Linked DNA regions of Homo sapiens. The protein of the gene in region 3 interacts with the protein of the main gene of each other region in a pairwise test. Each region holds a gene or a part of one and is shown on either strand. Other genes may lie near its edges.

Region 1 (7,905 bases), on a different chromosome or scaffold from region 3:
CGGAATCCCTCAAGTGTCTTTCTTTTTCATAACTGTCGTGCCAAAACCCAGTTAGTGGTGTCCACTTCCAGAATGGCAGTGTGTGCAGCTCCGTGGACCCCTGCCCCAGTGAAACAGCACAACTGATGACGATTATTCAAAAGCAAGCACTGAAAGCCTCTGGGCATGGTGCCCAGGGCACACAGCAAACAAAGGTTTACACAAGAAAACCTGCCAAGGCCTGGGAATAATGGCAAGCCTGTTGGCACCTGAGCCATGACACTCCTGCCCTCCCACCTCCAGCACCCCTCTCCCCCCGCCTAGCACTGGGGGCAGGTGTGGCCAAGAAGAAGGGCTCCCTCTCCCCCAGCTCCCCGTCAAGGGTTAGGGTGTTTGCCCAGGAGGGCCAGGTTCTCAGCACTTCTCAACCCTCCCAGCTCCACATGGCAGAGGCTAAATTCCAGCTGAGTGTGGCAGACAGGCCAGGGGCTCCTTTCTTCCACCTGCCCCCAAGCATAGAATAGAGGCTATATCTCAGGCCCGGCAGGCTGGGAACATGGAGCCCCAGCTCATTTGTAGGAAGGAGGCTCCACACTGGGAGAGGGCAACCAAGAAGGCCAGAGGCTCCTGCCCAACCCAGCGACCTGCTCCTAAAGCAATAGCAGCACTCAGAGAGGTGCCCCGCTGTCCTGCCCCCAGTTCCACAGCATGGCTCAGACAGAGATTTAGCCTAGGGGTAGACGTAGGTCATAAATAGAGCTCTCCCCACCCACCAACCCCCTGAAAATTGGCTTGATTTGAAACAGTGCGTAGGGAAGTTCAAGTTTAAAGGGGCTGTCAAAATCAGTGGAAGTTTTGGTGGTGCGCCATTAAGAAGAGACTGGTACCCGCATTAGGGCAACCAGCTGAACCATAGGCCAGCTAGTTTACCACAGAGAAGTGGAGAAAGAGCTAGCTAGGAAGAGCCTGCCTGCTGTCAGAACAAACCTCACTGACCTCAAAAGCCACCCTGTCAAAGGAGCTCAAAATTAATTGGATCTGGCCAGGCACAGTGGCTCATGCCTGTAATCCCAGCATTTTAGGAGGCTGAGGTGAGTAAATCACCTGAGGTGAGGAGTTCGAGTCCAGCCTGGCCAACATGGTGAAACCCCATCTCTACTAAAAATACAAAAATTAGCTGGGTGTGGTGGTGCATGCCTGTAGTCCCAGCTACTCGGGAGGCTGAGGCAGGGGAATTGCTTGAACCTGGGAGGCAGAGATTACAGTGAGCCAAGATCATGCCACTGCACTCCAGCCTGGGCAACAGAGCGAGACTCTGTCTCAAAAAAAAAAAAAAATTTAATTGGATTGGACCGTGGAACACTTTATGCCCCAAGGTATTGTTTGTTTGTTTGTTTTTGAGACAGGGTCTCACTCTGTTGCCCAGGCTGGAGTGCAGTGGTATGATCTCGGCCCACTGCAGCCTCCGACTCCCAGGTTCAAGTAATTCTCTTGCCTCAGCCTCCTGAGTAGCTGGGATTACAGGCGTGTGCCAACACACTAGAATAATTTTTATATTTTTAGTAGAGATGTGGTTTCACCATGTTGGTGAGGCTGGTGCACCAAAGTATTATAAAAAACAATAGAGCGGCTGGGTGTGGTGGCTCACGCCTGTAATCCCAGCACTTCGGGAGGCAAGGTGGGTGGATCACTTGAGGTCAAGACTTCGAGACCAGCCTGGCCTACATGGTGAAACCCCATCTCTACTAAAGATACAAATTTTTGCCGGGCGTGCTGGTGCATGCCTGTAGTCCCAGCTACTCAGAGGCTGAGGCAGGAGAAATGCTTGAACCCAGGAGGTGGAAGTTGCGGTGAGCCGAGATTGCGGCATTGCACTCCAACTGGGCGACAAGAGCAAAACTCCATCTCAAAAAAATATACATAATAGTAAATAAAAAATTAAAAAGAGCAGTCTCCAGTACCTGAGGGAGTACAGGGGTGAGGGGAGCGATGCTACCTGGGCCTGGCTGGCAGGCTGCCCTCCATCTTGTGGAGACTCTTCCTCTGACTCTAACTACCTCAGAGTCCCAGCCCAGGGTTTCTCCAAGTCAGGAGCCAGGGTGTTGGGATCCTGGAGGTCACTGGTCACAAGCACAGCCTCCAGGCCCAACCCTGGCACACTCGGGGACCTGGGCCTGTGCATCTTAACCCAGTTCTCCCACCGTCCCTGCCCTACGACTTACGTTCTAGCATGACTGGCCTGGCCCAACAGCCTCAGTGGTGGGACGGGGGAGGCAGGAGCAGGGGCTCCCACGTGAATCCAGGGTGTCCCTGAGCTAAGGCCAGGCGGGGGTGACCTCCGCAGCTTCCGGGGCCCTGGGCGATCGGGCCGTCTCGCCTCACCCTCTCACCAGGCCCGACACATCTGCTGGCCACCTTTCCCGGTAGACGGTAAGTTCCTCCCAGGCAGGGCCGCGGCTGACTTCACTCCGTGGGTGTGGGGAAGCCCTGGCGAACAGAGCAGTGGACGGGCTGTCACGAGGGAAGAGGGGCTGTTGCAGAAGAAGAGAGGCTGTCCCGGGGCAGGGGCTGTCACGGAGGAAGGACTGTCACGGGGAGGGCGGCGGCGCGGGGTTGATGGACAGCAGGCGGGGTCTCCGGGAGGGGCGAGTAGGGCGGGACCGCCGCTGGGAAGGGGCTCGAGGCAAGGGAACCAGGAATTGGGGAGGACGGGAGGCAGGGGCTCGCGGGGGCGGGCCTGAGGGGACGCGAGCGGGCCGCCGGGGAGGCCTGAGGGGCAGGGGTAACGCAGACCTGGCGAGGCGGAGGGGAGCGGCGAGGTGGCCACGCCGAGGCCCCTCACGGCGGGGTCTGGGCTCACCTGGGGCGACTGGGCGGGGCGCGGGTCCGCGAGGGCCCAGATTCCGGGTCCGCGGAGGCCACGGGACCCCTCGGGTGGCTCAGCGGGCCGGAGTCTGCCGTCGACTGTTCCGGACGCCCGGGCGGAGGACTCCCGTGAGGGGGAACGGCCCGTGAACGCGCGCGGAGCTGCTCGCGCCAAAAATTCCAAACCGGCCTCGAGGCTCCTCCCCCTCCCCAGTGCAGCCCGTCAGGGGTGCCCGGGCTCCGAGGCTCCGCCCCTCGTGCTGCGTGCGCGCCGCCGAGCCGCCCCGCCGCTCACTGCGCAGGCGCACAGGATTCTCCGCGCTGGCCCGGGGCGTGGGTGGCGGCCTGGTTCTGAGTCGCTGCGCGGGGCTTCAGCCGCCCAGTCCCTGGGACGCCCACTGCCCTCCAGGCCTCGCACCCGACACCCACCGCCCTCGCTGGGCTGGCGTAGTGTTTGGGTCCATAAAAGGGACCGCCATCCCGGTGCTCGGAGCAGGCGTAGCCCCAGGGTTACTCCGGGTAGGACCAGGAAGTCCCTACGGCCTCCTGGGTCCCGGCACCCCCCTTCTCACTCCGGCCGTGTTCTGAACCAGGGTCGCGGTGGGAGGCCAGACGCACGACCCCCAACCCCTAGCGCACGGCTTCGGGAGCCAGAAAAAGCCGCCTCTTCCAGGAAGCTCTCCAGATAGGCAGGACTCTGCTTGGCCTGACCTCGCCTGCCTGCAGCTTCCCTGCCAACAGGCCTCAGATACTTTTTTTTTTTTTTTTAGACAGGGTCTCACTGTCACCAAGGCTGGAATGCAGTGGTGCAGTCCCCAGGTTCAGGCGGTTCTCCCAACCTCAGCCTGCCGAGTATGTGAGATCACAGGCGCGCGCCACCGCACTCGGCTCATGTATTTTATTTTTAGACAGGGTCTCATTCTGTTGTCCAGGCTGGAGTGCAGTGGGGCGATCTCGACTCACTGTAACTTCCGCCTCCCCCGCTCAAGCGTTCCTCCCACCTCAGCCTCCTGAGTAGCTGGGACCACAGGCGCGCGCCACCACACCCAACTAATTTTTGCATTTTTTTGTAGAGACGGTGTTTTACCATGTTGGCCAAGCTAGTGTCGAACTTCTGACCTCAAGCGATCCGCCCGCCTCGGCCTCCCAGAAGGCTGGGATTACAGGCGTGAGCCACCGCGATTGGCCGCAGGATCATAGTTCACTGCAGCCTCGAGCAGCCACTTCCGGGGCAGCTCCTCCATTCTCTGAGTTTGAGACTTGCTCTCAGCTCAGATCCCTTCAGCGCTCTCCTGGCTGAACGACCTTGGGAATGCACTGAGCCTTTCTGAGCTTCGGATTAGTCTCCTCTCCTGGAAAAAAAAAAACAGCTGAGGACGCTGGGATGATCCCCTAAAGTGATTAGCAGGGGCCCTCGCGGAGCAAGTCGGGCTAGGGATTGTTCCTTCCCTCACCGAGGGGCTCTTTATCTGTTTAACTGGGTGGGAGGAGTACGCTTCCGGCCAACCCTCCCCCAAACGCTGGCCTTCTCACTCTCACCTCTCCTTCCGCCTTATTTTTGCTATTGCCCTGATCTCTGTCCGATGTTCTATCTTTTGTTTGTGAGTTTACTTGTTGACTACCTGCTCCTTCTAGCCCTGGCCTCCAGAACCAGTCCCCCAAACCCTCCATCCTCCCCAAGTCTCTGACAGGTCATGGACTGCAAAGCTTCCCACCCATTCAGTTCCTGCACCCTCTGTAAACGTTCTGTGCATGGAGCAGCAGTGTGGGGGAGGAGAGGCTGGGATCCTGGCTGGGGGCGGCAGCCCACCTGCCTGCACCTTTCCTTGTCCTTCGCATCTCTGGCGGCTGTGCCCCAGTGACTCAGGCAGGATCCTTGTTGATGACTCCAGACTGGCCCCCAGGAGGCCTGGGGCACACACAGGCCCCTCCCCAGCTGCCTAGGGCTACCTCTGCCAGCCCCATCTCCCCAACAGGTCCCCTTCCAACCGCCCATTTTTTAAAGTCTGATTCACAATGATAATTAAAAAAAAAAAAAAAAAAGCATGGAAACACATGCTTCCGATGTAAATTTCACTGTGTGAGGAAAGGCTGTAATATAAATATATGTAAATGGAAATAAGTAGATGGAGCAGATAAGTGCGTGGTGTGAGGGAAACTAGGGCTGCGATCCTGCCTGCCCCAGTTTCTGCGTGTGTAAAATGGGGATAAAAATAATAGTTTTCTAGACTAGGCAACATAGCAAGGCCCTGTCTCAAGAAAGAAAAAAGAAAGAAAAGGAAGGGAAGAAAGGGAAAGAAAAAGAGAAAGAAAGAAAGGAAAGGAAAGGAAGGAAGGAAAGAAAGGGAGAGAAAAAAAGAAAAGAAAGAAGAAATAAAGCAGTGAGGCACAGTGGTACACACCTGTAGTCCCAGCTCCTCAGGAGGCTGGAGTAGGAGGATCACTTGATCCCTGGAGTTAAAGGCCGCAGTGAGGGCCGGGTGCAGTGGCTCATGCTGGTAACCCCAGCAGTTTGGGAGGCTGAGGCAGGTGGATCACTTGAGCTCAGGAGTTCGAGACCAGGCTGGCCAATATGGTGAAACCCCTTCTCTACTAAAAATACAAAAATTAGCTGGGTGTGATGGCAGGCGCTTGTAATCCCAGCTACTCGGGAGGCTGAGGCAGAATTGCTTGAACCTGGGAGGCAGAGGTTGCAGTGAGCCCACATCGCACCACTGCACTCCAACCTGGGTGACAAGAGCGAGACTCTGTCTCAAAAAAAAAAAAAAAAAAAAAGGCTGCAGTGAGCCTGGGCAACAGAGTGAGACCCTGTAAAAAATATAAAGTGATAATAATAGTAGTTCCTCCTTCCTCGGGGAGTATGAGCACCACATGAGAAAATGCCTGTGAAGTGCTTAGCACAGAGCCGAACACACAGTAGGGGCTTACTCATTGTTTCAGAATAACAGGCTGGGCGAGGTGGTCACGCCTGTAATCCCAGCAATTTGGCAGGCTGAGGCGGGCAGGTCACTTGAGCTCAGAAGTTAGAGACCAGCCTGGGCAATATGGCAAAACCCTGTCTCTACAAAACATTCAAAAATTAGCTGGGCATGGTGGTGTGTACCTGTGCTCCCAGCTAGTCAAGAGGGTGAGGTGGGAGGATCGCTTGAGCCCAGGAGGTGGATGCTGCAGTGTGCCGAGATGGCGCCACTGCACTCCAGCCTGGGCGACAGAGCGAGACTCGGTCTCAAATTAATAATAATAATAATAATAATAATAATAATAATAATAATAATAAAATAGTAAGACCCCCTCATCTGTACAGTCTGTTGCAGTTTTCAACGCTGCAGTCTGGGCCAAAAAGAGGCCCCAGGAGGAAAGAAGCCCGGACTCCTCTAACCACCTTGGGGTCACAGGGACCGAGGCACGGGCCCACAGGGTTCCGGACCAAAGCGCTTTGCCGACCTCCTTCCAGGAGGAATCCTCCCAGCCGCCGCCCAGGCACCCGGTTCCCGCGAGTCCCACCCGCGCGACCAGGCGCGGGCCGCGCGCGCCCCCGTGTGTCCCGTCGCCGCCACAGCACCCGCGGCTCCGCCCAGACTCTCCAAGGAAGACTCACTCATGCGGTTTCGGCCACAAAAGGAAAGGCGAGGCCGGGCGCGGTGGCTCACGCCTGTAATCCTAGCACTTTGGGTGGCCGAGACGAGCGGATCACCTGAGGTCAGGAGTTTGAGACCAGCCTGGCTAACATGGTGAAACGCCGATTCTACTAAAAACACAAAAATTAGCCAGGCGTGGTGTCGGGCGCCTGTAATCCCAGTTACACAGGAGGCTGAGGCAGGAGAATCGCTTGAACCCGGGAGGCGGAGGTTGCAGTGAGCCGAGATGGCGCGACTGCACTCCAGCCTGGGCGACAAGAGCAAGACTCCGTCTCAAAAGAAAAAAAGCGAGGGAATGACGACCACAAGTGCAAACGTGGCTATCCTAATGGGAGGAAGGGGACTGTGATGGGTGCTTCTGCGGAACTGGCTATGTTCTACTTCTTGACCCAGGTGCTGGGTGCATAGGGGTTTGTCTCATAAGTACGATAGCTGCACGGCACATTCACATCTCATGTGTGCTAATCTTTGCATGCTATGTTTCACACTTGAATAAGGTTTTTTATTTTATTTATTTATTTATTTATTTATTTTCAGACGGAGCCTTGCTCTGTTGCCAGGCTGGAGTACAGTGGCGCGATCTCGGCTCACTGCAACCTCCACCTCCCGGGTTAAGCGATTCTCCGGCCTCAGCCTCCCGAGTAGCTGGGATTACAGGCGCACACCACTATGCCCAGCTGATTTTTTTATTTTTAGTAGAGACAGAGTTTCACCACGTTGGCCAGGATGGTCTCAATCGCTTGACCTGGTGATCCACCCGCCTCGGCCTCCCAAAGTGCTGGGATTACAGGCGTGAGCCACCGCGCCCAGCCTGTGTTTTGATTATTTTTGAGACAGGGTCTCACTCTGTTGCCCAGGCAATAGTATGATCACGATTCACTGCAGCCTCAACCTCCCAAGCTCAAGTGATTCTCCCACCTCAGCCTCCCAAGTAGCTGGAACCACGGGGGTGCACCACCCAACCCTGGCTAATTTTTAATTTCTTGTAGAGACGGGGGTCTCATTATGTTGCCCAGGCTGGTCTCGAGCTCCTGGGCTCAAACAATCCTCCTGCCTCGGCCTCCTGAAGTACTGGAATTATAGGCATGAGCACTGTGCCTGGCCACACTTGCATAAGGCTTTTATTTTTCTGACACTACACCAAAGGAATTGCATAAGGTTTGGTTTTGTTTTGTTTTGTTTTAAGACGGAGTTTCACTCCTGTTGCCCAGGCTGGAGTGCAGTGGTGCGATCTCGGCTCACCGCAACCTCCACCTCCCGGGTTCAAGCAATTATCCTGCCTCAGCCTCCAGAGTAGCTGGGATTACAGGCATGTGCCACCACGCCCGGCTAATTTTGTATTTTTAGTAGAGACAGGTTTTCTCCATGTGGTCAGGCTGGTCTTGAACTACCGGCCTCAGGTGATCACCCCACCTCGGCCTCC
Region 2 (7,308 bases), on a different chromosome or scaffold from region 3:
TGATTTCTTTCCCCACATCTGATCAGTTCATGTCTTCTGTATTGAAAGCATTCTGAGGTCAGGCTCAGTGGCTCACGCTTGTAATCCCAGCACTTTAGGAGGCCGAGACGGGAGGATCGCTTGAGTCTGGGAATTCAAAACCAGCCTGGGCAACATAGAGAGACCCTATCTCTACACAGAATTAAAAAATTAATGGGGCATGGTGGTGCACACCTGTAGTTCCAGTTACTAGGGAGGCTGAGGCAGGAAGATCACTTGAGCCTCAAGGCTGCAGTGAGCCCTGATTGTGCCACTGCACTTCAAACTGGGTGACAGAGCAAGACCCCCATCTCAAAATAAATAAATAAATAAATAAATAAATAAATAAATAAATAAAGTAAAATAAAGAAAAGAATTTAAAAAAAGTATATTATGGGATATCTAAAAGTTGACTGTAGAATGAAATATGTTATTATTATTTTTTTGAGATGGAGTTTCACTCTTGTTGTCCAGGCTGGAGTGCAGTGGCACAATCTCAGCTCTCTGCAGCCTCTGCCTCCCGGGCACAAGGATTCTCCTGCCTCAGCCTCCCGAGTAGTTGGGATTACAGGCGCCTGTCACCATGCCTGGCTAATTTTTGTATTTCTAGTAGAGACGAGGTTTCACCATATTGGCCAGGCTGATCTCGAACTCCTGACCTCAGGTGATCTGCTTGCTTCAGCCTCCCAAAGTGCTGGGATTACAGGCGTGAGCCACTACACCTGGCCAGACATATATTATTGAAGAGTAAGTAGTATAATGGTTATAAACACTGAGCAGGGCCTTAGCAAAATAGGTAGCTACTATCATGTGGCTTAGGGAAATGAAAATAGCTCAGTGGAGCTAGAGTATAGGTAGTATAGGGTAATTTAAATAAAAGTTAAAGTATATTTAAGCTTGGTATGTCTACAAAATTAGATTAAAAGAAGAAAACCAAGACCTTTAGTGATAGGAATTGCATGTAATTTTTTTTTTTTTTTTTTTTGAGACGGAGTTTCACTCTTGTTGCCCAGGCTGGAGTACAGTGGCATGATCTCGGCTCACTGCAACCTCCGCCTTCTGGTTTCAAGCGATTCTCCTGCCTCAGCCTCCTGAGTAGCTGGGATTACAGGCACCCACCACCACACCTGGCTAATTTTTGTATTTTTAGTAGAGGTGGGGTTTCACCATGTTGGCCAGGATGGTCTCAAACTCCTGGCCTCGCGATCTGCCCGCCTCAGCTTCCCAAAGGGCTAGACTTATAGGCGTGAGCCACTTTGCCCAGCTGTAAGTTTTAAAGAACCATTTACTCAGTTACAACCAGTAAAGCAGGCGTGTTTCAGAGGAGAGTTTAGTCATTGTTTGCTTAATTGTCAGGAACAATACAAACTGCTCTGGAAGAATAATACGGGTATGTGCAGGGGGTGGGAGGGCAAGAACAACAGCTTTCTGAAGGGGTGTTTGTTTCTGTGTGTATCAAGAGAAAGCAGGAAATGGGAGCTGGCTAGGTCAGCGGTGATGAAGACTCTCTCTCCTGTCCCAGCTCATTTCTGTTTGCTCTAACTATGACAGCAGGGCTTGGAACAAGTTTGCAGGGATGAAGGCCTGACCAGAACATCAGGGAAACAATCCAAGTGTGAGGTAGTGCAAGTGCTAGTAGACCTATGATCAAGGATGGACAAAAAGGGAATTCTTTAAGCAGAAGGTGGGTGGCAGGCAGGAAAAGTACAGGGGCTTTCAGTCCCCAGGGAAAGCTGTGACAGGGGCACGATGCAGCAGCTCCCTGCTCTCTTCTCTCTCCTCCCTAGAAAAAAACAGAAAATGAAGCCACCAGGAAGCACACTATTCAGCAGAAAGTGGTAAAACAATGTAATTGAGGGAGTTGTAGACTTTCTTCCTGAAAAACGCTCAGTGTTAGATAGCTCTCCCCCACCTTTTGTGGGTTCAAAATGACCTTGTGTGGAAGCAGAGGGATTGCCCTGATGGCCCTGCATGTGCATGCAATTGAGTGATGCTGGTCTAAGATACTAGAGGCTCATCTTTCTACAATGATGAACAGTTGAAAAGCAAAGTATCTAATAATAGGCTGGGTGTGGAGGGGGTGGATGTCTTTTCCATTCTTTCCTCTTCCAGCTCCTGAAGCCTGGGGGAATAAGCAAGAGGGATGTTGAGCTCTTGATTAGGTTTGTAACCCAGACACTACTGGTCCTGATGAATTAAAAGAACATTAAGGCTGTAGCCAGCGACACCACATTTTTCATTTAACCAAATTGATTACAGCTCTGACTCTCCTAATAGCCTGGGAAGGCAGGCTGGCTTCCTCTGACGTGCTTAGGAGAAGAAGCTGGGGCACCAGATTGACACAAGGCTTTGATCAGAACAGTAGGCAGCTGAGTCTGCTGCCGTGGAAAAGTTGAAGCGCATCAGGCCAGTTCGCTTGGCTTGATTCTGTGCGAGGGGGCTGCAGCCCTCTTTCTGGCTGGAGTCCTGCAGATACTGGTTGTTGGCATGGGGAGCAGGAAGGAATGAATAGAGTAGAGCCAGCCCCTTTGGGGAAGCAACAAGTCCTGGAACACACCTGGCTAAGGGTGGGGGTGGTGGGTAACCTCTTTGAATGTAAAGGTCTCATTAGTCCATTGTAACTTGGCTCCCCATTTCCTCCACTGCCCTTGTTCTGGCTGCTCCACAGGTGAAGGGGGAGGGCCTCTGTGCCTCAGGGGCTGTGAGCACAGCTTCAGCCTGATTGAGGACTCCCCAGAGGTCTTCCCCCACCTTTTTCGTAACATCCACTGAGTCGGCAGCCACTTGCCGCCTTGCTCTGAGGCAAGCCAAACTGGGGATAGTCTCCAACTGGGGATGGTCTGCCAGTAACACCTGGTATTATTGGCACAGTGATCTGAAAAGTGCCCTCCACTGCCTCTTCTCTCCCCAAAGCCTGAATCCCACTTGTTCTTTGCATCTCCTCATATTGCATTCATTCCACCTCTCACTCACTCACCTAGTACGTATTGAAGACTGACCTCAGGCCATGTACGGTTTTGTACCCAAAAGCGAGGCAGGATGCTACAGTCCTATTATAAAAGTTAACTCCAGGCCAAGCGCAGTGGCTCATGCTTGTAATCCCAGCACTTTGAGAGGCTGAAGTGGGTGGATCCCTTGAGGTCAGGAGTTCGAGACTAGCCTGGCCAACATGGCAAAACCCCATCTCTACTAAGAATACAAAAATTAGCCGGGTGTGGTGGCGCACGTCTGTAATCCCAGCTGCTCGGGAGGCTGAGGCGGGAGAATCCCTTCAACCCAGGAGGCAGAGGTGGCAGTGAGCCAAGATCGCGCCACTGCACACTGCACTGCAGGTTGGGTAACAGAGTGAGACTTGTCTAAAAAAAAAAGAAAAAAAAAAGTTAACTCCAAAAGAGTTAAAGCGGATATTCAAATTGTGCTGTAAGGAAGTTCTGGTGCTGCCCTGGCAGCTCCTGGGTAGGTTAGGAAGGGCTCTGTTTTGCCCTTGCCACCCTTCTCTTTCTCCCAGGCTCTTCCGAAATGCCACCACTTAACTGTCTGCAGCTCCTTGGTCCAACGCACCATTCAGGGACTGTTTCCCCACCTGCAAACTGCCCACGCAAAATGCCCACCTTAAAGGGATGTCTTACGTATTAAGCAAACTAACATGTGTGAACACCCTGTCTTTAATAACCAGTAGCGTCCTCCTTTTCTTTCTACCGTCTTCCAGCTCCTCTCTCCTTGTCACCCTGCAGTTCTTACTCTCCCCTCCGCTGTTCTATTTCCATAGGCCTCAGGCACCGCTGTCTTCTCTCAAGCATCCTCCTCTCTCTCACCCAACCTTTAGGCTCAGAAGCCCCCACCATCCAGGTGGCCAATATAGGTAGCGGTGACCTAAGCGGAGAGGGGAGGAGGGGAGGCTAGGGGCTCAGGGATCCCAAAATGGCCATGGGGATGGGGGCTCCTGAGCCCAATAATTTAGCCTTGAGCTGCAGTGGGTTCGGGAAGTTGGAGAGAAGGAGCTGGCTAGAAAGGAGACCAGCCTTCTGGGGTGGGGAGTATAGAGCTCCTTTCCAGTCCGCCTTCCTGCTGGGGAAGCAGCCTCCTTGACCTTGAGCAGGAGGCGGGGGCGCCGAGCGCCTGGGGGGCTGCGCAGAAAGAACCCGTCCCGGGGGGCAGGCCCGCCCTCCGCCTCCTCCGGGCCTCCTCCGCCTCGGTCCCCGCCCTCCCACGCCGCTTGGTCTCCTCCCCTCACTGCAGCGCTCGCCGCGCGCGCCCATCGATCAGGCCCCCTCCCTCTGCCGCCTCGGCGCAGACTGCTAAGCTCAGCAAGTCTTGCGGCAAAGGCACTTCGGAGCCGAGTTGGGGCAGCGGTGGAGCGGGGACTTCGCGCCCCCAGGGGAACGGGCGCCCCTGCGAAACCGTCGCCAGCCACGCGTCCTTGCCGTCCGACGCCCCCTCACATTGGAGACCCCGGATCTCTCCCGCCTCCTTCGGGTCGCTCTCCGGTAAGTCCATACCCCCGCCGGTGGGGGCACGGACCTCCCTCTCCAAAGTTTCTCCTTTCCTGCTACTGAGTCGAGGGGCCACGGGGTGGTCTGGGTCCCGAGAGGTGAGTAGGGTTGGGGAAGTTTGAGGCCAAGGGGGCCGGGAGTCTGCCCCGTCCTTTGGGGGAGTTTGGAAGCGTCCGGATGGAAGGTTCGTCTCGGGGAGTCGGACCCGAGGGGCGAGGAGCCGGCTCCTCTGAGGGACTGGGGCTGGGCTGGGGGCAGATTTCCTCCCGCGGGTTGCTGCAGAGAGGGGCGGGCCACGCGTCCCCTGCACCGGCCGGCTCTGCGCCCCCGTCCCTCTCTCCTTTCCCTGGGACGAACCCACTCGCGTCTAGCCCAGCCCCCGCCAGCCCTAGCGGTCTCCAAGGAAGGTTCTTTTGCCCCAGTCTCAAGCTTCGGGGACCCCTGGCACCGCCGTCGTGGGAAGTGGGGCGGGGGGTGGGGTCTGGGCGCTGGGAGCCGGAGACCCTGGGTCAGGGAGAGGTTGGGGAGACAGACTGCAGGGGCCATCTGGAAGCAACGGGCACGAGGAGCTGGGGCAGGGGCCCAAGAAGGGGCTGGAGGCGCCCCTCCCCTCTCTCCAAATCTCATGACTCAGCACGACCTAGGACGCCCCGTCCCTGCTTCAGCTCTGTCCCCAAGGGCTAGGCTCGCAGCCTGGCGGGTGCTGACAGCCCGACTCCCTTTTCTGGACTCTTCCATGTACCTTTCCCATTTGGGGTGCCCCCTTCCCCTGCCTATGCTCCTTCCCCCACCTCTGGGGCACAGGGCTTTTATTTTTCAACTAAAAAGTGGAGCTTTATCGTTTCACATCCCACTAAGCCAGGCCCCCTCATCCTGTCTCCTCCCTTTTCATCCCCACATTCCACAGGTGCCTCCAGGACACCCCCAGCCCATGGCTCGTGGGGTGTCTCCTGGCAGGGCAGTGTCCTCCCTTACCCCTGGCTGAGGTGGCAGAGTAGGTGCTCTCCCCGCAGCAGGAGAAGGGAGTGCAAGGACAGAAGAGGTGCTGGCCCAGGAGGGGCCACTGCAGTGGGGAGGGAAGGGCAGAGGCCCCGTGGGCAGGTAGTACAGGTTGAGTTAGCTTATAAGGAGGAGGAAGTCCTTAGGATCTGGGGGCGCCCAGGAAGCCAGAAAGGTGAACTGGGGTCTGACCTGGAAAGCAAAAGGGTGCCCTTCTCCCTCCCCTACTGCTGCCGCCCTGCGGGGCCTCTCCCAGGTGGAATAGATTGTCCTCCATCCAATCTGTCTGGATCCCCATAACCTGGCACTTCATTAGAGGGGGTGACAGAAGCAGGGAAGCCCTTAATCCTTTCAACCATCTCTCCCTACTTAAGACTAAGTCCAGCTTTGGGGCTGCTAGAAACATCTCTGTGACCAGCAGAGGTGCTGAAAAAAGCCATGCCCAGTGCCCCAAAGGCGGGCCCGAGTGGCAGGTGGAAGGGGGCAGGGTGGCTCTGATGCAGTGGGACGTGCCTGGCATCCTGGTCCTGTGGAATGAGAGTGGTGGTCTGGCAGGCACTGCAAGCTGCAGCGTGTGTCAGGGCCCTGGGGGTGAGTCAGCGTCAGGGGTCCACGCCAGGCACACTGCAGCCTAGGGAGTCCAACTCCAACCCATCTCCTCCCATGCCCCTGGAAAATGGCCAGTGCCCACTGAACCCCGACTGAACCACCTTTCCCTCAGGGTGGCTGCCTCTGCTCTGCTTGGCTGCCAGGCAGATCCCTGGCTTCACCCTCTAGGACTCCCCCCAGAGGCTTGGCTTTTTCTGGAGATCTTTTGGGCTTAATCCTTACCTTCTCCCCTCCTTGTCTTGCCAAAGGAGGAGGAGAGGGAGGCAGAGGAAAGTTTCTAGGTTATAGCCTCACATAGACCTGGCCCACCATTCCCTGGAGGAAGAGAGACCAGACCACTCTGCTGGGAGTCTGCTTTGTTCTGCAGTCCAGGAGCTTGGTCCAGGGAACTTGGGTTTTCTTTTGGGGGAAGGGGGTGATTATGCAGGAACATTTCTTTTTCAGCTTTGGGGTCTGACATCCGCAGAACAGGACCAGGGGAAGCAAAAAGTGTTGGTGTTCGTAAACATTGACTTTTCACCTAGAGAAGCTTGCAACTGGCTTCAATTTAGGACTGAAGCTGGTTTCACCTGGGCAAAGCATGTACCTTGCTGAAGACCTCGCAGGGCCGAGGAGACCCTTTCTGGAGCTGGGTCTGGGCTCACCTGCCCTCACATTGCAGCTGGAGCTCGTTTTATTCCTTCTACCCTTAGGCAGCTTCCAGGCAGGTGTGACAGGGCTGTCTATGATACTGCAGAGACCTGGGGGTGGGCTTTGGAGGTGGCTGGAGAAGCCTCTTCCTTGCCCTTCTCAAGCCCTGGGGACCAGGCTACCCCAGTGTTCCCCAGCCCCTAGGCAAGCCTGACCTCTAGTCATTCTTTCTGCCTCCATCTGAACATTATCATATCTCAATGGGGTCTCCTTTTTCTTCCCCGCCAGGCCTGTGCCGCCCTCTCAGGGGAGAGTAGATAGAGGGGCAGTGAGTGCACTGGAAGCAGGGGGACAGAAGGCAGTGAGGACAGAGTGGGAGGAGGTTGGGCTTCATTTGCCTGGAAGAATGACCATCATTCCCTTCCCTGGACAGAAGCATCCTCGTGGAGGACTTAAGGCTGCAGATGAGTAGAAACACTACTTCACTTGGCTTTGGGATTTGCTCTGTGGACTTCCCCAGTCTAGGCAGGTCCTAGCTGAAGCCAGAGTATCCCCACCA
Region 3 (7,495 bases):
ATCCAGTGAAGCAGAGTGCTCACTATTACCACAGAGAAGGGAGGGTGCAGAAGTGGGAAGACAACTCTGGAGTCAGGGTGCTTAGGAAAGTCCTCACAGAGGAGGAGCTGGGTCTTAAAGGAGGGTTCACCGGCCCTGGGTGGGGCCCAGGTAGCAAAAACAGCAAGGTAGAGATCTGGAGGACAGGATTGGAGGCAGGGACGAGTTGTGAAGGGCTTTGCCAGCCGTCCCCAGGGGTTTGAGCTTTATTTACTCTGTAGATGTTGAAGATCCACTCATGGGCTTCAAGTGGTGAGAAACATCGGATTTGCATTTTAGAAAGGTTGCGTTTTTTCTACACACTCTTTCATCCTGTGATGAGTGAATTAGAAGGAAGAAGGCAAAGCTGGGAGACCTTTGGAGTCATCCAGGTGAGACATGATGAGGGCGTGAACCAGAGCAGTGGCAGCAATGAGAAGAGTAATGAAGAGGAGGGGATGGATCCCAAAGATATTTAAGAGGTGGTAAGGGTGGGAGTTAGTAGCTGACTTGGTGGCTTTCCCTTGGCCAGTGGGATGATGGTGGGCATGGCTTAGCCAGGGTCTTGAACCACACTTGTACAGCTAGCCTTGCTCAGCTTTGTGCCTCTGCCCTTGCCATGAGAAGAATATGCCCAGGCAAGTCCACTGGGCCCCGGAGGAGGATGAGAGACAGGTGGAGTGGAGCTACGCTGCCCCAGCCGTCTGCCAACCACAGACATGTGAGCTGTAATAGTAGACGGTAGTTGTTTTAGGCCAGGGTTTTTGAGATGATTTGTTATATGGCGATTGCTAACTAAGAAATGTCTTTATTCTTCTCTTGAATGCTTACTATGTGCTGGGCTTTGTGCCAGGCACTGGGAATACTATGCTGAACCAGGCAGGCAAGGCCCTCACTCTCAGGAACTCATGTTAGGGTGGGGATGTGGCAGAGGAAGCCAGACAGACTTTGAGACCGCTGGTTCTAACTGGGTGCATGGTGGTGCCATTAATTGGGGTGGGGGTCTTAGGAGAGAAACAGGTTTTGGGGAAAAGATAATGGGTTTGATTTTATTTATTTATTTTTTAGAGACAGAGTCTCACTGCATTGTCTAGGCTAGTCTTGAATTCAAGAGTTCTGGGCTCGAGCGATCCTTCTGCCTCTGCCTCCCAAAGTGCTAGGATTACAGGCATAAGCCACCACACCTGCCCATGGGTTTGATTTAGGAAAGGAGTTTGGGATGCCTGTGGGACATTAGGGGGAGCTGTCTAGGGAAGGGCAGGAGCTATAGGTGTAGCACACAGGAAAGAGGTCTGGCCGGGGACAGAAATTCTCAATATAATATTGAAAATAACCTGTAGCAAAGGGAGTGAGACAGAGTAAGTGCTGTAGAAATTCAGAAGAGGAAGAGAAGCCTTGGGACCTGGGGGAATGAAAGAGATTTTGTTCTGAAGGTAACCTGCAAGCTGGTTTATACTCATGGAAGTGAGAGGAGAAAGGCACGCCTAACAGAATGAATAGGACCTGCAAAGGCATGGAGATGAAAGACAGGAAGAGCTGGATTGTGAGGAAAAGGCTGAAGATGTCAATCGGGGCAAGGTCATGAAGAATCTTGAATGGCAGGCCAAGGATGCTGTTGTGTTTCATTAGGAAATAAGGAGATATCGAACATTTTTTTTTTTTTTTTGAGATGGAGTTTCGCTCTTGTTGTCCAGGCTGGAGTGCAATGGTGCGATCGCGACTCACTGCAACCTCCACCTCCCAGGTTCAAGCGGTTCTCCTGTCTCAGCCTCCTAAGTAGCTGGGATTATAGGCGCATGCCACCACATTTCAGCTGAAGCAGGCCTGGTCACATTAATACCTACCCATCCATTGTTTTTTTGTATTTTTAGTAGAGACAGGGTTTCATCATTTTGGTCAGGCTGGTCTTGAACTCCTGACCTCAGGTGATCTGCCCATCTCCGCCTCCCAAAGTGCTGGGATTACAGGCGTGAGCCACTGTGCCCAGCCACTATCGAGCATTTTTGAGCAGGGGAGAGACATTTGGTACGTATGTCTAAGAGATGGGCAGTCATGTGCAGGGGATGAGTTCTGCAGTAGAAAGCAAGAGATATTGGTTCTAATCTCAGCTCTTCCATTTACTGGCCCTGGGATATGGGGTAAATAATGTCCCCTCTCTGAGCTCTGTCTCACTGCAAAAAAATGGGAGTAAAATTTTCTGACCTTCACATGAATCTTTTTTATTTTATTTATAAATATATTTTTTGGAGAGGAAGTCTTGCTCTGTTGCCCAGGCTGGAGTGCAGTGGCATGATCTTGGCTCACTGCAACCTCCGCCTCCTGGGTTCAAGCAATTTTTCTGCCTCAGCCTCCCAAGTAGCTGAGACTACAGGTGCATGCCACCACACCCAGCTAATTTTTGTATTTTTAGTAGAGACAGGGTTTCACCATGTCGGCCAGGTTGTTCTCAAACTCCTGACCTCAGGTGATCCACCCGCCTCAGCCTCTCACAGTTCTGGGATTACAGGTGTGAGCCACTGCGCCCAGCCTGAATTTTAATTATGTAAGAACCATGACAAAATGCGAACGAAGTGCTTGGAAGACCACAGAGCAATGCACAAGGCTGGGTAGGTATTAATGTGACCAGGCCTGCTTCAGCTGAAATGTGAGGCTGGAATTCCCAGACAGGTGTGCATACTACAGATGCCATTTCCTTAACCTCTGTCTTTTCTCCCACCTTGGAGAGGGGATCGACAGAGATGTGAAGCCATTAGCAGCTGGCAGAGCTGGGATTTATGTTCTCAAGCCCTACCTTCCCATTCTTGATGCAGTCCCACACCTCCCTCCACATGAACAGGACATGTCATTTAGAGAGGGCCTGCCCAGGACGGGCCTGCGTCAAGGCCACAAAGCACTGGCCTGTGCAACAGTCACTATCCTCAAGGAGTTCACATGCTAGTTGGATCATGAGAGCACATACCTCAAAAAGCCATTGGGGTGGCACCTGATAATGGGCCAGGTAAGTGGTGCAGACAGTCGCTGGTGGAGGGTGAGGAGAAAGTAGAGAGAAGCAGCATGGGAGCCGGGCGTTGAAGACTGGTGGGGTTTAAAAGAGGGGAGGGGAAAGGAGCCAGAAGGACTGGGGAGGACTCTTTCCTGTGTCAATCCATTGGTTTCCCCTCAGCACTGAAACCAAACACCAAAACCCCATTTAATGGAGCAAAGACAAATGTGACCACAATGAGAGAACCACCTCACACCCATTAGGATGGCCATTATAAAAACAAAACAGAAAATAACAAGTGTTTGGGGTGGATGTGGAGAAATTGGAACCCTTGTACATTGCTGATGGGGAATGTAAAATGGTGTGGCCACTGTGGAAAACAGCACAGTGGTTCCTCAGAAAGTTAACCATAGAATTACCATATGATCCAGTATTTCCACTTCTGCATATGTACTTGAAAGAGTTGAGAGCAGGGACTCAGACAGACCTTTGTACACCCGTGTTCATAGCAGCCTTATTTTGAGTAGCCAAAAGGTAGAAGCAACCCAGGTGTCCATCAATGGATGAATGGATAAACAAAATATGGTGATATATACAATGGAATATGATTCCGCCTTTAAAAGGAAGGAAATTCTGGCTGGGCACAGTGGCTCACGCCTGTAATCCTAGCACTTTGGGAGGCCAAGGCGGGCGGATCACCTGAGCTCAGGGGCTTGTGACCAGCTTGGGCAACATGGTGAAACCTCGTCTCTACTAAAATTCAAAAATTAGCCGGGCATGATGGTGTGTGCCTGTAGTCCCAGCTACTCAGGAGTCTGAGACAGGAGAATCGCTTGAACCCAGGAGGCGGAGGTTGCAGTGAGCCAAGATTGCGCCACTGCACTCCAGCCTGGACGACAGAGCGAGACTCCGTCACAAAAAAAAAAAAAAAAAAAGAAGGAAATTCTGACATGTGCTGCAACATGGATGAACCTTAAAGACATTAGGCTAAGTGAAAGCTAAGCCAGTTATGCTAAGCCAGTCACAAAAGGACAGTGTTTGTATGATTCCACTTATATGAGGCACCCAGAGTAGTCAAATTCATAGAGACAGAAAATAGAATAGTGGTTGCCAGGGGCTGAGGGTATGGGGAATGGGAGTTTGTATTTAATGGATACAAAGTTTCTGTTTGGGACAATGAAAAAGTTCTGGAGATGGTTGGTGGTGACAGTTGCACAACAATGTGAATGTACTTAAGACCACTGAATTGTACACTTACACATGGTTAAAAAATGGCATGCACACACACAAGGACAAATGTGATGAGTCACTTACATCTCAGAAATATGAGTGACATGGAACTGTTTGAGAAGAAGTGGAGGAAGAAATGGGGTCCCCAGTGGATAGGCCTGCTGAGAAATCAGCAAGTAGTCTAGAAATGGGGCTGATTGGTGCAGCAGGCCAGCCGACTCTTCAACTGACCACAGATAATCCAAAAAAGCTCTAGGGAGTACAGACACCTCCCTCTAAGTAGCATTTGGGTAGAGTTGCAGAGAAGTCAGTGGGGTGGGTGGGTTATTCTGTTCTTTGCTCTGTTTTTTTTTTGTTTTGTTTTTTTGGAGACAGAGTCTCACTCTGTCTCCCAGGCTGGAGTGCAGTGGCGCAATCTTGGCTCACTCCAACCTCTGCCTTGCGGGTTCAAGCGATTCTTCTGCCTCAGCTTCCCAAGTAGCTGGGATTACAGGAGCGGGCCACCACGCCAGGCTAATTTTTGTATTTTTAGTAGAGACGGGGTTTCACCATGATGGCCAGGCTGGTTTGGAACTCCTGACCTCAAGTGATCCGCCGCCTCGGCCTCCCAAAGCGCAGGGATTATAGGCGTGAGCCACCGCGCCCGGCCCTCACCTGTCTCTCTTGCGCCCCCCGCAGCCAGCCCCAGTCGGCGCCATGGCGTCTGCCGAGCCCCTGACGGCGCTGTCCCGCTGGTACCTGTATGCCATCCACGGCTACTTCTGCGAGGTGATGTTCACAGCGGCCTGGGAGTTCGTGGTGAACTTGAACTGGAAGTTCCCTGGGGTCACGAGCGTGTGGGCCCTCTTCATCTACGGCACCTCCATCCTCATCGTGGAGCGCATGTACCTGCGGCTGCGCGGCCGCTGCCCGCTGCTCCTGCGCTGCCTCATCTACACGCTCTGGACCTACCTGTGGGAGTTCACCACCGGCTTCATCCTGCGCCAGTTCAACGCCTGCCCCTGGGACTACTCCCAGTTCGACTTTGACTTCATGGGCCTCATCACCCTGGAGTACGCCGTGCCCTGGTTCTGCGGGGCCCTCATCATGGAGCAGTTCATCATCCGCAACACCCTCCGCCTCCGCTTCGACAAGGACGCTGAGCCCGGGGAGCCCAGCGGCGCCCTAGCCCTGGCCAACGGCCATGTCAAGACTGACTGAGCAGGAAGCGGGTGGGGGGCCTGGGGATCTCTCATGGAACTCATGGACAAAGAGACCAAGCTGGTGAGGTTGCCCCATCCATGCAGCAAAAGCCCTGCTCCGGCCAAGCCTCAGCCCTATAGGGCACACAGAGCCCCCTAACGTCCGCGGGGGCCGGTGTTGGGGGGCCGTGGTCAGGTGTTGGGGGATGGGGTGTGGAGGCAGCAGAGGGACATTGGGAAGGGTCCATGGATCGCGGCCCAGTTCAGGGGTTGGTACCAGGAGGCCTGTGGCTGAGCAGCGATGGACTATGTAGTTGACTTTGGAAGCAGCAGGCCCTGTCCTGGCCAAGGGACAATGAGAATGGGGCCGCAGGTGGGAGGCAAGGCCTGACCTCCCTCCCTCCGATCTGGATTTAGTTGAGCTTTGGCTGGTTCCATTAGGCAATATTCAGGTGCTTGCTTGCAACCAATACCTCCCCAGGGGCCTGCTGAGCTGCAGCCGAGGAGAGACTGGGCAGCCAGGAGGCTGCGTGGCAGCAACGCTGGTCTGCAAGGGCTGGGAGACCCTCCCTTGGCTCCTCTCCCCTCCCCCAGGGCCCTGCGCTGCTCCCTTGGCCTTCTGGGGCCCCCGTGGTGCTGGATTCCCACCAACCTTGGGCTTTTGGAGGTTTCAATCCCCGTGTGTTCGGTGGCGTTTCCCCCTTTTCTGTCTTGTTTTCAAAGCCTTTACCACTAGCGGCTCTTTATCCACGTCGGTCGCCACACCTGCCCCACCCCAGCTCCCTAGCCAGCACAGGAGCTGCCGGAGATGAAGCCCTGAGACACCCCCAACCCTCACCCCCTTGCAGCCCTTCCCTCCACTGTTCCGGCTGGCCTGATGCCTGGGGAGTTCCTGAGTTACACCTCCCTACCCCCGGTCTAGTGGGCTGTGGCAGTGCTCCCTTCTCAGTGGCTCAGCTGAGAACAAATGATGCCCTCCAATGCACAGGCAGGCTGGGTTAGGCCCTGTGGATCCACAGTGGGGACCTAGAGGCAAGTCAGTTTGGTGGGGAAAAGCCAGAGTTCTAGGTCATCTATTCCCTGCCTGGTTTATTTTCAAGCCAAAACTGAGCAGTCTAGCTTTCTATGGGATGGAGAAGCCAGGTATCCAGCATTGGAGACTGATGGAGAATGAGAGGAAGAAAGAGAGGAGGACCTTGCAGCTGTGGAAGGCTCCTTGGAGCCTCCTTTGTGGGAGGGTATCAGTTCTGGTTCTGCCAGAGCCTCAGCCCTGGTAGCAGAACCTCAGGGCTGCCCCTCTCCCCAAACTCCTCCCAGCAAGGCTGACCCTTTGAGCTCACTCCTTAAACAGTATTAACCCTGCCACACTCATGGGCATTGGCACCTTGGTTCCCCTGCCCCACTTTGTCCTGTGACAGGTCCATTGCTGGCAGTGGACAGGTGAAATACTCACTCCAGCCTACTTCCGGCTCTGACTCTCACTCCTCAAGGGGAAGGGTCCGTTAGAAAGTGGCCCACCCCATGGTACATGGTCTCTTCTTGACCACACTAGGACTCTTAGGTAGAAATTAGCCTTCCCCTTTTTATGGATCATTACAAAGTGACGGTATCACCTGTGGAGAGAATGTCCTCTTCCCTGCTGGCTGCCCTGCCCATACTGTGCAGGGTGTGGTGGGGTGCAGGGTGTGGTGGGGTGGGCCACAGTTGTGTCCTAGGTCTGGAGAAAAGCTTGCAGACTCTGCCTTTGGCAGGATTTTCTGCAGTTAGCCCCGTCCAGAGCAGAACGAAGGGTATTTCCTAGCCTATTTCCTGGGCAGGCTCCTCAAATCCAGGGATGAACTACTTTCTGCAGTGGCCAGCCCTCCTTTTGATTTTATTGTGGCCCCAATTCCAGGGCTTTGGGGGTTACAGAGAATCAGGCTTCCGGTGGGAGTAGATTGTTTTCCATCTATAGGTGGAGAAAATTCCAGGAGGAGAATATTGTCTGGCTTCCCCGTTCTCTCTGGGCAATTGTTTCCTTGGTTCTCTCTCCAACTCCATGTTGTCTTAGTCTCCCAGCACCCCTTCAGGCCTTCCATGTGGG

Evidence for each region. Proteins that work in one complex are often made in the same cells at the same time.
Region 1: the proteins of TMEM229B (region 3) and PKMYT1 interact in binary tests that used the Homo sapiens proteins (3 or more experiments, as listed by UniProt).
Region 2: the proteins of TMEM229B (region 3) and SYT2 interact in binary tests that used the Homo sapiens proteins (3 or more experiments, as listed by UniProt).

What each region holds. Positions count from the first base shown.
Region 1 is NC_000016.10:2,977,447-2,985,351, forward strand, and holds the start of PKMYT1 (membrane-associated tyrosine- and threonine-specific cdc2-inhibitory kinase), read right to left. Parts: upstream 3,001-7,905; 5' UTR 2,840-3,000; exon of another isoform or gene 2,773-2,839; intron 2,548-2,772; exon of another isoform or gene 2,467-2,547; 5' UTR 2,212-2,466; coding exon 2,202-2,211; exon of another isoform or gene 1-2,201. UniProt on the Homo sapiens protein: Acts as a negative regulator of entry into mitosis (G2 to M transition) by phosphorylation of the CDK1 kinase specifically when CDK1 is complexed to cyclins. Mediates phosphorylation of CDK1 predominantly on 'Thr-14'. Also involved in Golgi fragmentation.
Region 2 is NC_000001.11:202,707,455-202,714,762, reverse strand, and holds the start of SYT2 (synaptotagmin-2), read left to right. Parts: upstream 1-4,308; 5' UTR 4,309-4,505; intron 4,506-7,308. UniProt on the Homo sapiens protein: Exhibits calcium-dependent phospholipid and inositol polyphosphate binding properties. May have a regulatory role in the membrane interactions during trafficking of synaptic vesicles at the active zone of the synapse.
Region 3 is NC_000014.9:67,471,356-67,478,850, reverse strand, and holds part of TMEM229B (transmembrane protein 229B), read left to right. Parts: intron 1-4,909; 5' UTR 4,910-4,913; coding exon of another isoform or gene 4,914-4,927; coding exon 4,928-5,431; 3' UTR 5,432-7,495.